3 linked regions of the Homo sapiens genome follow. The protein of the gene in region 2 interacts with the protein of the main gene of each other region in a pairwise test. Each region holds a gene or a part of one and is shown on either strand. Other genes may lie near its edges.

Region 1 (3,500 bases), on a different chromosome or scaffold from region 2:
AAAGAAGTTTGCCATGAAAAAAAGAAAAGGTATTCAAGGCCAGGAGAATGGCATGTACACAACACAGAAGCATAAAAGATCATGGCGTGTACAGAGAATGGCAAGCATTTCCATATTATTTTTTTTTGAGACAGCGTCTTGTTCTGTCACCTAGGCTACAGTGCAGTAACACAATCACAGCTCACTAACAGCCTGACTTCCTGGGCTCAAGCAATCTTTCTACCTCAGCCTCCCAAGCAGCTGGGACTATGGACACACGCCACCACGCCCAGCTAATATAATTTGTTGTCATCGTTGTTGGAAATGAAGTCTCCCTATGTTGCCCAGGCTGGTCCTGAACTCCTGGCCTCAAGAAATTCTCCTGCTTTGGCCTCCCAAAGTGCTGGGATTACAGGCGTAAGCCACCACGCTCAGTCCATATAATTTTAACATAGGACACGTTTAGAGAAAGGGAGAGAAGCAGAAGGCGATGCCCAGGACCAAGAATAAACAAGGGCTATGTAATAAGCCTTGAATCCCACTGTAACAGGCAGAAGACTGAGAACCATCCTCTTGATCATGATTGTAGTTGTGATCTACTTTCTACTGAATGTCTATCACATATGTGACTGGGGTAAGGTATGATTATGAGATCAAGGACTACTCTAGAATGAAAAAGCCTTTTAAGAGAAATAGGCCAGGCATGGTGGCTCACGCCTGTAATCCCAGCACTTTGGGAGGCTGAGGCAGGCGGATCACTTGAGGTCAGGAGTTAGAGACCAGCCTGGCCAACATGGTGAAACTCTGTCTCTACTAAAAATACAAAAATTAGCCAGGCATGATGCTGTGCACCTGTAGTCCCAGCTACTCAGGAGGCTGAGGCAGGAGAATTGCTTGAACTCGGGAAGCAAAGACGGCAGTGAGCTGAGATCGCACCATTGCACTCCAGCCTGGATGTTGGTGCGAGACTTCATCTCAAAACAAAACAAAACAAAAAACAGAAATAGGGAATACAGTACCCTTGAGGTCTCTAAAGTCTAGTTGTCCCTCTTTTGCACCACAGGTACTAATCAAAATATAGTATCCAATCTGACATGAATGCAGAGTCTACCAGCCACTGCTGGTGCTCATTCCAGGAAAGAAAAACATACCTTGCCATAGGAGGTCTTAAATGCTGCTTTAATTTTTTGCCTCTGATCATTGGAACGGTTGGCCACCACATCCACAATTGCCTGCTCATCTGTCCCTGGAAGAACCACACATGTTTAAGTAAGGACAAAGTACATGCTAGGTGCTGCTTGAGGTCATCTTTTTTTTTTTTTTTTTTTTTTGAGACGGAGTTTGTCACCCAGACTGGGGGTGCAAGTGCAATGGTGTGATCTAGGCTGACTGCAATCTCCACCTCCCAGGTTCAAGCAATTCTCCTGCCTCAGCTTCCCGTGAAGCTGGGATTACAGGCATGCATCACCATGCCCAACTATTTTACTTTTTATTTTTAGTACAGATGGAGTTTCGCCATGTTGGCCAGGCTGGTCTTGAACTCAGGTGATCTGCCCACCTCGGCCTCCTAAAGTGCTGGGACTACAGGTGTAAGCCACCACACCCAGCCTGAGGTCATCTCTTAGAATGCTTACAAGGCACTAGACATCAGATTAAATCCAGGTATGCGCACCCAGGCTGACACATAAACTTGGGTTTATGAGATAAGGTTTATTTTTACTTTAGAACTGATTACTTTAACTTATTAAAAAAGACAAAAATTTGTTTTCCTTACCAAAACCCTTCATTGCCTTACGAAGAATTTCTGCATCTCTTATAGCATCGAAGTTGGCAGCTGGTCGGATAGTTCCTTGAGTGACCTGAGTCACTGTGGCAGGCTGAAAATAAAAGGCATAAAATCCGTGTCAGCATTTCCAGTAAGTTTCTAATGAGGAAACTTAAAGACTTCCCCAGACATCAATCTTAAGTAAGAAGGCCAATGTTTGGGTTTTAAGGCAAGGATATGAGCATTTTATTACCAGAGCTCATTATGGAACAGACAGGAAAGACCTATCCCCCTTCAGGACAGATTTTTCTCCTGCCAACAGATAGCCAGACACCAAACTTCCAGGAGACAAGATGGCCAAACTTGTGAAATTAAAGTCACAATCTTACTATAGTTTCCTTTTTGGTAGAATAGGAAGAAAAAAGAAGACTGATCCCTGAATGGTGTGAGATGAGCGACAATGTTTGATTTAAAAACAGAAGAATATAAAATGGCTTTAGTGAAGTAGCACATGAATGCCCAGTGAGATTTCAAACCAGCAATATAATTTTAGTAATCTCTCTTAATTTCCTATATGGACCCTGATTATTATACATGAAATAAATCTATATGAAAATTAAAAATTGCCATTTAGCAAATACTATGGTAGTAACTGTTTCAGGCAAGAATCAACAGTGGGTGCTAAAATTAGGTGGCAAAAGTATAAAGAAACAGGATATTTGTATAACCTATAACATTATAGCAGAGAAACCTTGCAGGCACCAACTTAAATGATCAAAATTAATTATCACCAGTAATGGAATAAGTCAATAATAAGTGTCTCCTGATATGATGCACTGGGGGCACAAAATCATTTCTGTGGTACTCTTGCCAAAAAGGCATGACCTGGATTTAACCATGAGAAAATATCAGACAAACCCAAATTAAGAAATATTTTATAAAATAACTGACAGTGTTCTTCAAAAGCATCAAGGGCATGAACAACAAAGACTGAGGAACTATTTCAGATTAAAGGAGACTTAAGAGACATGACAATAAATACAACATTGCATTCTGGATTTGATCCTGAACCAGAAAAAGGACATCATTGAGACAACTGGTGAAACTGAAATAAGGTCTGTAGGTTGGGTAACAGTACTATATCGATGTTATTTCCTGATTTTGATCATTGCATTGTGTTTATGTAGGAAGTTAACATTTGGAGAATCTGAGTAAAGGGTATATACAAATTATTTGTACTATTTTGCAAGTCTAAAATTATGTCAAAATTAAAAGATAAAACAATTTAAAATACAAAGCTATGAAATAATTCAATAGTTTCCCCCAATTTTTTATTTTTTAGAGATAGGCTCTCACTCTGTTGTTCAGGCTGGAGTGCAGTGGCACAAACATAGCTCACAGTAACCTTGAATTCCTGAGCCCAAGCAATCCTCCTGCCTCAGCCTCCTGAGTAGCTAGCACTACAGCCATGTGCCACCATGCCCAGCTAATTTCTTACTTTTGTAGAGACGGGGGTCTTGCTATGTTGCCCAGGCTGGTATCGAATTCTTGGCCTCAAGTGATCCCCCTGCCTTGGCCTCCCAAAGTGCTGGAATTACAGGTGTGCGGCCAGCCCAGAATAATTCAAGAAGTTTCTTAGGGTGTTCAAGTCAGGGCTTAAGAGGGATGGGATGAAGATGATGCTCCACTACTTTTTAAAAAAATTTTAATTGTAACAACACATTTCTTGTATGTTTGAATGTTGACCTAAAATAAA
Region 2 (4,100 bases):
CAGTGGTCACTTCTTATTGAGACTCAAAGCTGGGAGAGGCCCTGGAGATTGTCCATGTCAGGGGAAGCACAAATTCAAATGCCTACAGAGGGCAGGCAGGTCACAGTGTGTTGATCAGGCAATTAGAGTGGCCCAGCTTATGGACAATTGGGAGTTCAAAGCCAAACTGGCCAAGTGAAATGATCCTAACAAAATCAATTAACAGCCTTTAAGTAGCCTGACCCCTTATATCTATAGATAAAGATATTAAGATTCTAAGAAGTGAGCTCATCTGCCTTGGATATACATGTTATCTTGTCTCCCTGTACCTTGGGGATTGACTGGAATATCTCATGGCCTGGTTCTACCTCTGACCTGTTGGGCCCTTGGCTCACCCTCATTCTCAGGGCCCATTAAGATTCTTCTGTCAGATGATAAGTTCCTTGAGGGAGCCATCTTGTTTTACTCAAATCTGAGCACATCACATCCATTGATATAAGGTTCCACATGCAGAGCAAAGACTGGATTCAGATCTCCTGTCCCCATTCCCACTGGGAATCCAGTGGGTGTAAACCAATTTTATTTTTTACAAAAAAGAGAAAATTCAACCATAACTTTTTGTTTCATCTAATGTAGCAATAGGGTTAGATGAGATAAGACTAGAAGCTCACATTGGATGTTTGCAGATTCCAAGGAACATCCAGAAAGCCCTGATGCCTGAGTGGGGATCTAAAAAGAGGGATGGGAACCCATCAAGGGGATAGAGGAACAGCAGACATTTATGGATGGAGTATGTGTATTTAGGAAGATGATGCTATTGGGTCCAATTATTTGAACACTGACCATAACACTCCCGTGCTTAGTCTTGGTCACCCTCTTATATCCAATGATCTGAGTTAGCAACTCATTACCAGCCAACCAGTTCACCACTTTCATTGATGACTGAGGTGGTAGAATGGACAAAGAAGACAAAAAGACAAGATCCCTGATTAGAAGTGCATGCCACCTTGTTATGTTATATTGCCTTAAAGAACCCAGAGCTGAGTTCTGGTGCCCCACCACCTATACCCTGGCAGTAGACAGATGTTTCCCATGATCTTCAAGTGTTGGCTTTGTCACTGCCTGGGTACAGGGTAAAAGAGACCATCCAGTGGCAGTAAACTCCTGTGTTCACTCACCTACTATGTGCCAGGCACTGTTCTAGGAGCCATGGATACAACAGTAAACAACACATGCCTCTGATCTCCCAGGATGGGGTAAATCAGCATGACTAAGGGTACACAATTATCAGCATTGCCTCAACATCTGTGGTGATTTACTGTGGTGTTTTTTCCCCTGTGGGTTTGTCTGGGGGACCTGACAGCTAATGTGGAGTTGTCCAAAGGACTTGGAGTCCAGGGTTTTGGGGGAGGGTGAGAGGGCTAGGATCCCATCACCTTAGCTGTTTCCTAGTTCCAAGTTCCCTCTCTGTGCCTCAGATTCCTCACTCATCAAAGCTAAACACCTACTTTGTACCTGTGGTGTAAATAGATGCAAAGCCAGGCTCCTGGAGATCTGGGCATCTGGAGCTCTGGGGATGCACAAGTGCTTGGAGGGAGTGTTACTTATACTTAAAGATCTAAACCCCAGTGGGTTCTGGGGACCATCTTTTGCCTCATTCAGTCACCTTGATCACTAGCTTGTCTTCATTTCGTGTGTGTGTGTGTGTGTGTGTGTGTGTGTGTGTGCTGGAAATAGTTACTTCTAATGAATGAGTTTTCTTTACATTCAGATCTTTCCATATGAGTTTACCTATCACTAAGTTGGCCTTAAATTTATGACAACACTTAACTAACTTGGTCTTAAATGTATGGCAAGAGGCCAAAGCAAATGCCTGGACTAATGGAATTTCATTGAATTGACAGAATTGAGCCCTTCATTTATAGCTTGTGTGGACAACACCTGGATTTTTCACTGGCATCGTGCTATACTTTTGCAAACCCCCCTCTCTGTGACTTTTGGTTTGATGACATCTGCCTTAGCTGAGGAGATGATCCTCTAATGGGTAATCTGGAACAGGATCTTCGTGTATGCCATTCTCTATTTCAGATGGATCTCCTCCAATACTCTCCTTCTGAAGAAATTTCCTTTATAACCAGCTTGAATGCTAGAAAATGGCAGGGAGAAGTTCCAGCTGAGAGTCGAGTTCTGAAAGGAAAGGGACAGAAGGGTGCTGAATGTTGTGTGGCTCTGCCATGATACTTCCCTTCCCTTCTGTTTTAGTGAGCATGAGAGATGAAACCCAAACCTTGCAGAATGGCCTCTCAGTCCTGATTTGAGTGGGGGACTCACCAGTGAGAAATTATTCGACTTGGTGGCTTCAAAGTGGAATAAAAAATGAAGATGGTTTTCTGTCCAATTTGCTGCTGGGCACAGGAGAGAAAGCAGAAGGAGGGACCTCTGGGATGGGGACTGGGTCAGGAGAGTTTAACCTTGAGCTCTCTTCTTGGCAGTTGGTCTGCTGATTCTCCTCCACTCTCTGACTTGAAATAGAAGGACAAGGATTCCATCGGGCTTTCCCTGAGTACATGAAAGCTTTAAAGGCAATGCTGTATGTGCTGAATCCCGCCATGACACTGTCCTCATTGTTCTGCGTTTAATAAGGATGACTTAATCAGACTTGCGCATGGAACTTGTTTGAATTTGAAGCCTTGTCGATATTATCAGAGTATCTTTCATTTGAACCAGAAATGTCCTGGCCAGCATCTTCTGTGATGGGAAAGGTTGGTACTTGAAGGATGTTTAGTGACCATCTGTCCTGCCAGTCCCCTGAGGATCAAATTACAGGTTTCAGTTACAGAGTGGGGAGGCTGGGTTAGAAATGAGGGAGGCTTTTCTGCTTGAGCACCTCTGCCAAACCACTGGGTTCTTCATCTGTGAAAGGGAGGTGTTCAGAAGAATCTTAAAGCCCTTTCTGGCCCTCAAGTCAGTGGTTTTGAATGGATATTGCAGTCGCTTCTTGATTTTCCAGGAGTGGCTCGTTGACTTTTCTGTGGATTCTTTGTGGGGAATGTGAGTCTCAGGATAGTTTCCAGTTACCATCCAACCCCCCTGTTGTTAACCCATCTGACCGACTGCCAGTCACTGCATCTTCAGAGAATGCATTTTCCTTTTTGCCTCAGCCTGAGCCAAATATCATCTGGAAGGTAACTCTGCTGTATATTGAGGCATACATGTGCATATAAACATACATACATATATGCACATATAAATGTAGATGAAAGGTATTCCAAATCTGTGTGTTACCGGCTGACCATTGGATTAACCGCAGTTCTGTCCGCAGTTTCGTTCCCTGCCAGAGCTGATGTAAGCCCGCCCTGGGAGGCAACTTTAGGGAAATGGCTTGCAGGGTAACAATTTAGATCCATCCCTATTTGCCAGTCCCACTGGTCTACCTGAGCCATAGCTCCCTCCCTACTGCCCTAGCCATTGTCCGGAAGGCCTCCCAAGAGCCCCCCTGTTAGGAATACAAAAGAGCTGCAGTTGGCTCTTAATTATTCAGGGACAAGTGTGTGAAGCACCCAACTCAGGCCTCTTCTTTCCCTGCTTTCGGTGCCTTGAGTAACTCTATATCTGTAGTGAGTAGCTGGGGCAGATCTTATCATTTCATACAAACTTTTGTTTCTAGCAGCCAGCTCCCTCTGCTTCTCTTCCCTCAAGGCGCCTGGGGGAAGCTAGGAGCCCTCTCTGAGAGGCCTCATCCACTCAAAGCAGACTGCTTTTAAGGTTTACACATTGCCCTGTTGGTTGGTGTGTATTTCTGCCCGAAAGCAGGACAGAAGAGGAAAATACCACTAGCTCTGGCTGATGCAGGGTCAGACCCCTGCAGATTTCCCGGGATCCGGGCTTTCTTTCCTTCCTCCTTTGGTAGAGCCTGGACTTTCAGTGTTTGGCATCAGGGATACCCTAGGTCCCATCAGGAGTCTAAGTGTAGAGCAGTGTCCTTGTGGTAAAAGCTCCAAACAGGCAAGGTCTAAAGAGCACTTACATGAATGTCCCCAAGGCTGAGGGTAATGTTTCTACATAGACCAGGTGCCTTGGGGCACATGCTCCCTTTCAACAGCTCTCCAGGTTCCAGAGTG
Region 3 (2,850 bases), on a different chromosome or scaffold from region 2:
GGTGATGTCAAAGGTATATGATACTTGAGGAAATCAGGCCAAGTGTAGCTGAGCAATTAATAAACACTCAAGTTTTTTTAGTTGGGGTCATGTCAAACCCTCACATGGTGGTTAAGTAGTGACTAACTGTGCATGTCCTTCATGGTAGGTGAGCACCAGTCTCCATGATCAAAAATGCCCCAGTTTCCTTTGAAAAAGCCACTAGTTCTGTGAATTGTCCTTTTCCCTCCTGCCCCTAACAGTCCTACCCCTCTAGCCTACATTAGCATATTTCTCATGTAATGTATTTTGCTGGTAAGCTCATCCATTAGCTGCGTCCTTCAGCTATTCCTTTAGATTGGAGGAAGTGGATATGAAGATGGATTGATTCAGCTCACCTTCCATGATTGCTTTTGAGGGAAAAGCTACAGTGGCCACATTTCAGATGTTCACTTTTGCAATTTGTGGAGGGTGGAGAGAGGTAGACTTTTGTTGTGTGTTTTATAAAGTACTCTCAGTAAGGAGTGTTTGAGTTGAAGAGTCATCTGATTCGAGGCCACTCATGTTCTTTGTAACTTAAACTTTGACCAAGAAATTCTTCACTTCTCACTTCTTCACTTCTTCCCAATATACAGTAAGTACGTGAGCCAGTCATCCATACACTAAGGCCTAGTTGAGAAAAACCTTTGATTCAGGATGGCTGGGTTACTAACCTTGAAATGTAAGAGATCTGGTTTTGAATGTAAAAGTTGCAACACACAAACGGAAGTCTTAAAAACTTTTTGCTCTGGTCAGTTACAGGTGGATCCCCAATAATCTGTTTTTGGTTTTCTGATGGAAATAATAGAATTAGGGGAAATCAAATCTGGTTGGTAGGTGTCTACAGTATTAGAAGAGGGTATAAGGGCACTGTTTAACACTAAGTTCTAATACTTCCAGAAACTGTGCATTCCAGATCTACATACTAAATGCTCTTATCATTTTGAAATGGGCTCTTGATTAATAGACCCATATTTTTTAGTGGCTTCTATGTTGTATATTTGTCTAAAATGAAAGCTCTTTTGCGTTCTAAAACTACAATATATGTCATCTTATTTTCCCTGAGTATCCAAGTATAGTGCAGATTCTATGTAAAACTACTAAATGACACTGGAATATGTTTAGTAGATTAGGGGGAAAAACTATAAAGGTTTATACAATTGTTTGTAGTTACATTTAGGATGGACTTATCCCTTTGGAGAAGAGTGAAGTTTGTTTTTTCGCCATGTGATGAAGACCACTGTGATTTTTTAAAAAAGTAGATAATACTTAAAATGGCGTAATAATTCTGCACTTGAATTTGTACTGTTAACAGCACATTTGGAAGATTTTAAAACTTTTTATTGTCTTATAAATAGCATTCACTTATTATTTTGGATATTTAAGGGTTCCATTAAGTTAACACTGTATTTGGACAAAGTGTGACCAAATTAGCCAGTCTGTTTTCTTCCATGTTTAATTAGAAGTGAGAGGTAGAAGTACTTCAAATTCAACAGGCCAGCAAGCAATCGGCTTAAAATTCCCTTTCTTAAATGTTGTGCTCTTATGTTCTCGGCTTTTTAATGACTTTATTTTTACAGTACTTGTTCAGTCACTTGAGATGAAATGCTTGGGGTAGCTTTTCCATCCTCAAACTTAATGTTTTTACTAGTTCATAGTGTTTGGAACAGTATATGCCAATCACTGAGACTGCATCAGAGTTTGCAATTTTGTATGTTTCATTGCCAAAGAAGGCTTAGTGGTTGTTGACTGTAGTATAAGTCAGCTTTCTGTAGCATAAGATTTGATTTTCCCATACTTACTTCACTTGTTATACATCACTGATTATTTGGGTTAAACTGGACTCATTTCAAGCAGTTTGCTTTTGTTCAAATCGTGATGAGAAACCTAATACTGTAATTTGATTTGAGCCATAAAACACATTTTAATATTAGCTTGTATTATAGTTATTAAGCTTGTTTTTGTGGAAAAAAACTTACTAAAACCTAGGTAACTCTAGATTAGGCCAGTTCAGGTGTATTTTGTATCTTAGTAATGGATCATATCGTAAAAATAGAGATAAGTTGGGAAGATATATTGATTATGCTGTTCTGTTGAGGGAAAGGTCATGTATTTAGAAATTTAAACTTTTGGTTATTGTGTTCACATCATAGTATTCAAGCATCATTTATAGTTTGGTTTTGAGAACTTTTCTGGTATTACGTTTATGGCAAATGTATAAAAGAAACAAGTTTTGGTTATATTTTTATATTTGTAAAGTAAGTTTGGTTAAAGTGATCACTGTTCTTTTTTTATTTTATTGTCATTTCAATAAAAAATATTTGAAAGAGAATGACTCTGTGATTGTTTTGGGATAGTAGTCCTGTATGTGTGGCTGCTGATCCTACTGTGCTAGTAGAAATCTTGCATGGTTCGTCACTGTGAGTGGCCGAGGGCCTTTAGGTAAGAGACAGCTTAGCATAATAGCAAGGGCCTGATGGCCTGGGTCACTGATGTTGCCCTCTCCTTGTGCCCCACACACTCCCTCCTCCCATTGTGTGTTAGCAGTGTTTCAGTTTCCTGAGGTGTGAAAGGGTCACTAGATTTGGAACATGAAGGCCACAAGTTAGAAGTTGCTACACAGTTGTGTTAACTGTGTGTAGTCCATATCATTGGGGACTGAGTCCGAGTTTCCTCATCTGTAAAGGGAGGGTTGACTCCTTTAGTTTTTTTTCTCAAACTTGCCTGGAATTCATAATGTTCTATGACACACACCATACCTGCTGCATATGTAATACTGTGTAATTCAATGTTATCTTAAATAGAAAGTTTACCCAAAATACGGGAATATAT

Evidence for each region.
Region 1: the proteins of SEMA5B (region 2) and ANXA7 interact in a two-hybrid assay, tested with the Homo sapiens proteins (one large-scale study listed by BioGRID and IntAct).
Region 3: the proteins of SEMA5B (region 2) and NUDT21 interact in a two-hybrid assay, tested with the Homo sapiens proteins (one large-scale study listed by BioGRID and IntAct).

Annotation. Positions count from the first base shown.
Region 1 is NC_000010.11:73,386,559-73,390,058, forward strand, and holds part of ANXA7 (annexin A7), read right to left. Parts: intron 1,857-3,500; coding exon 1,754-1,856; intron 1,226-1,753; coding exon 1,131-1,225; intron 1-1,130. UniProt on the Homo sapiens protein: Calcium/phospholipid-binding protein which promotes membrane fusion and is involved in exocytosis.
Region 2 is NC_000003.12:123,020,929-123,025,028, reverse strand, and holds part of SEMA5B (semaphorin-5B), read left to right. Parts: intron 1-4,100. UniProt on the Homo sapiens protein: May act as a positive axonal guidance cue.
Region 3 is NC_000016.10:56,428,633-56,431,482, reverse strand, and holds the end of NUDT21 (cleavage and polyadenylation specificity factor subunit 5), read left to right. Parts: 3' UTR 1-2,350; downstream 2,351-2,850. UniProt on the Homo sapiens protein: Component of the cleavage factor Im (CFIm) complex that functions as an activator of the pre-mRNA 3'-end cleavage and polyadenylation processing required for the maturation of pre-mRNA into functional mRNAs.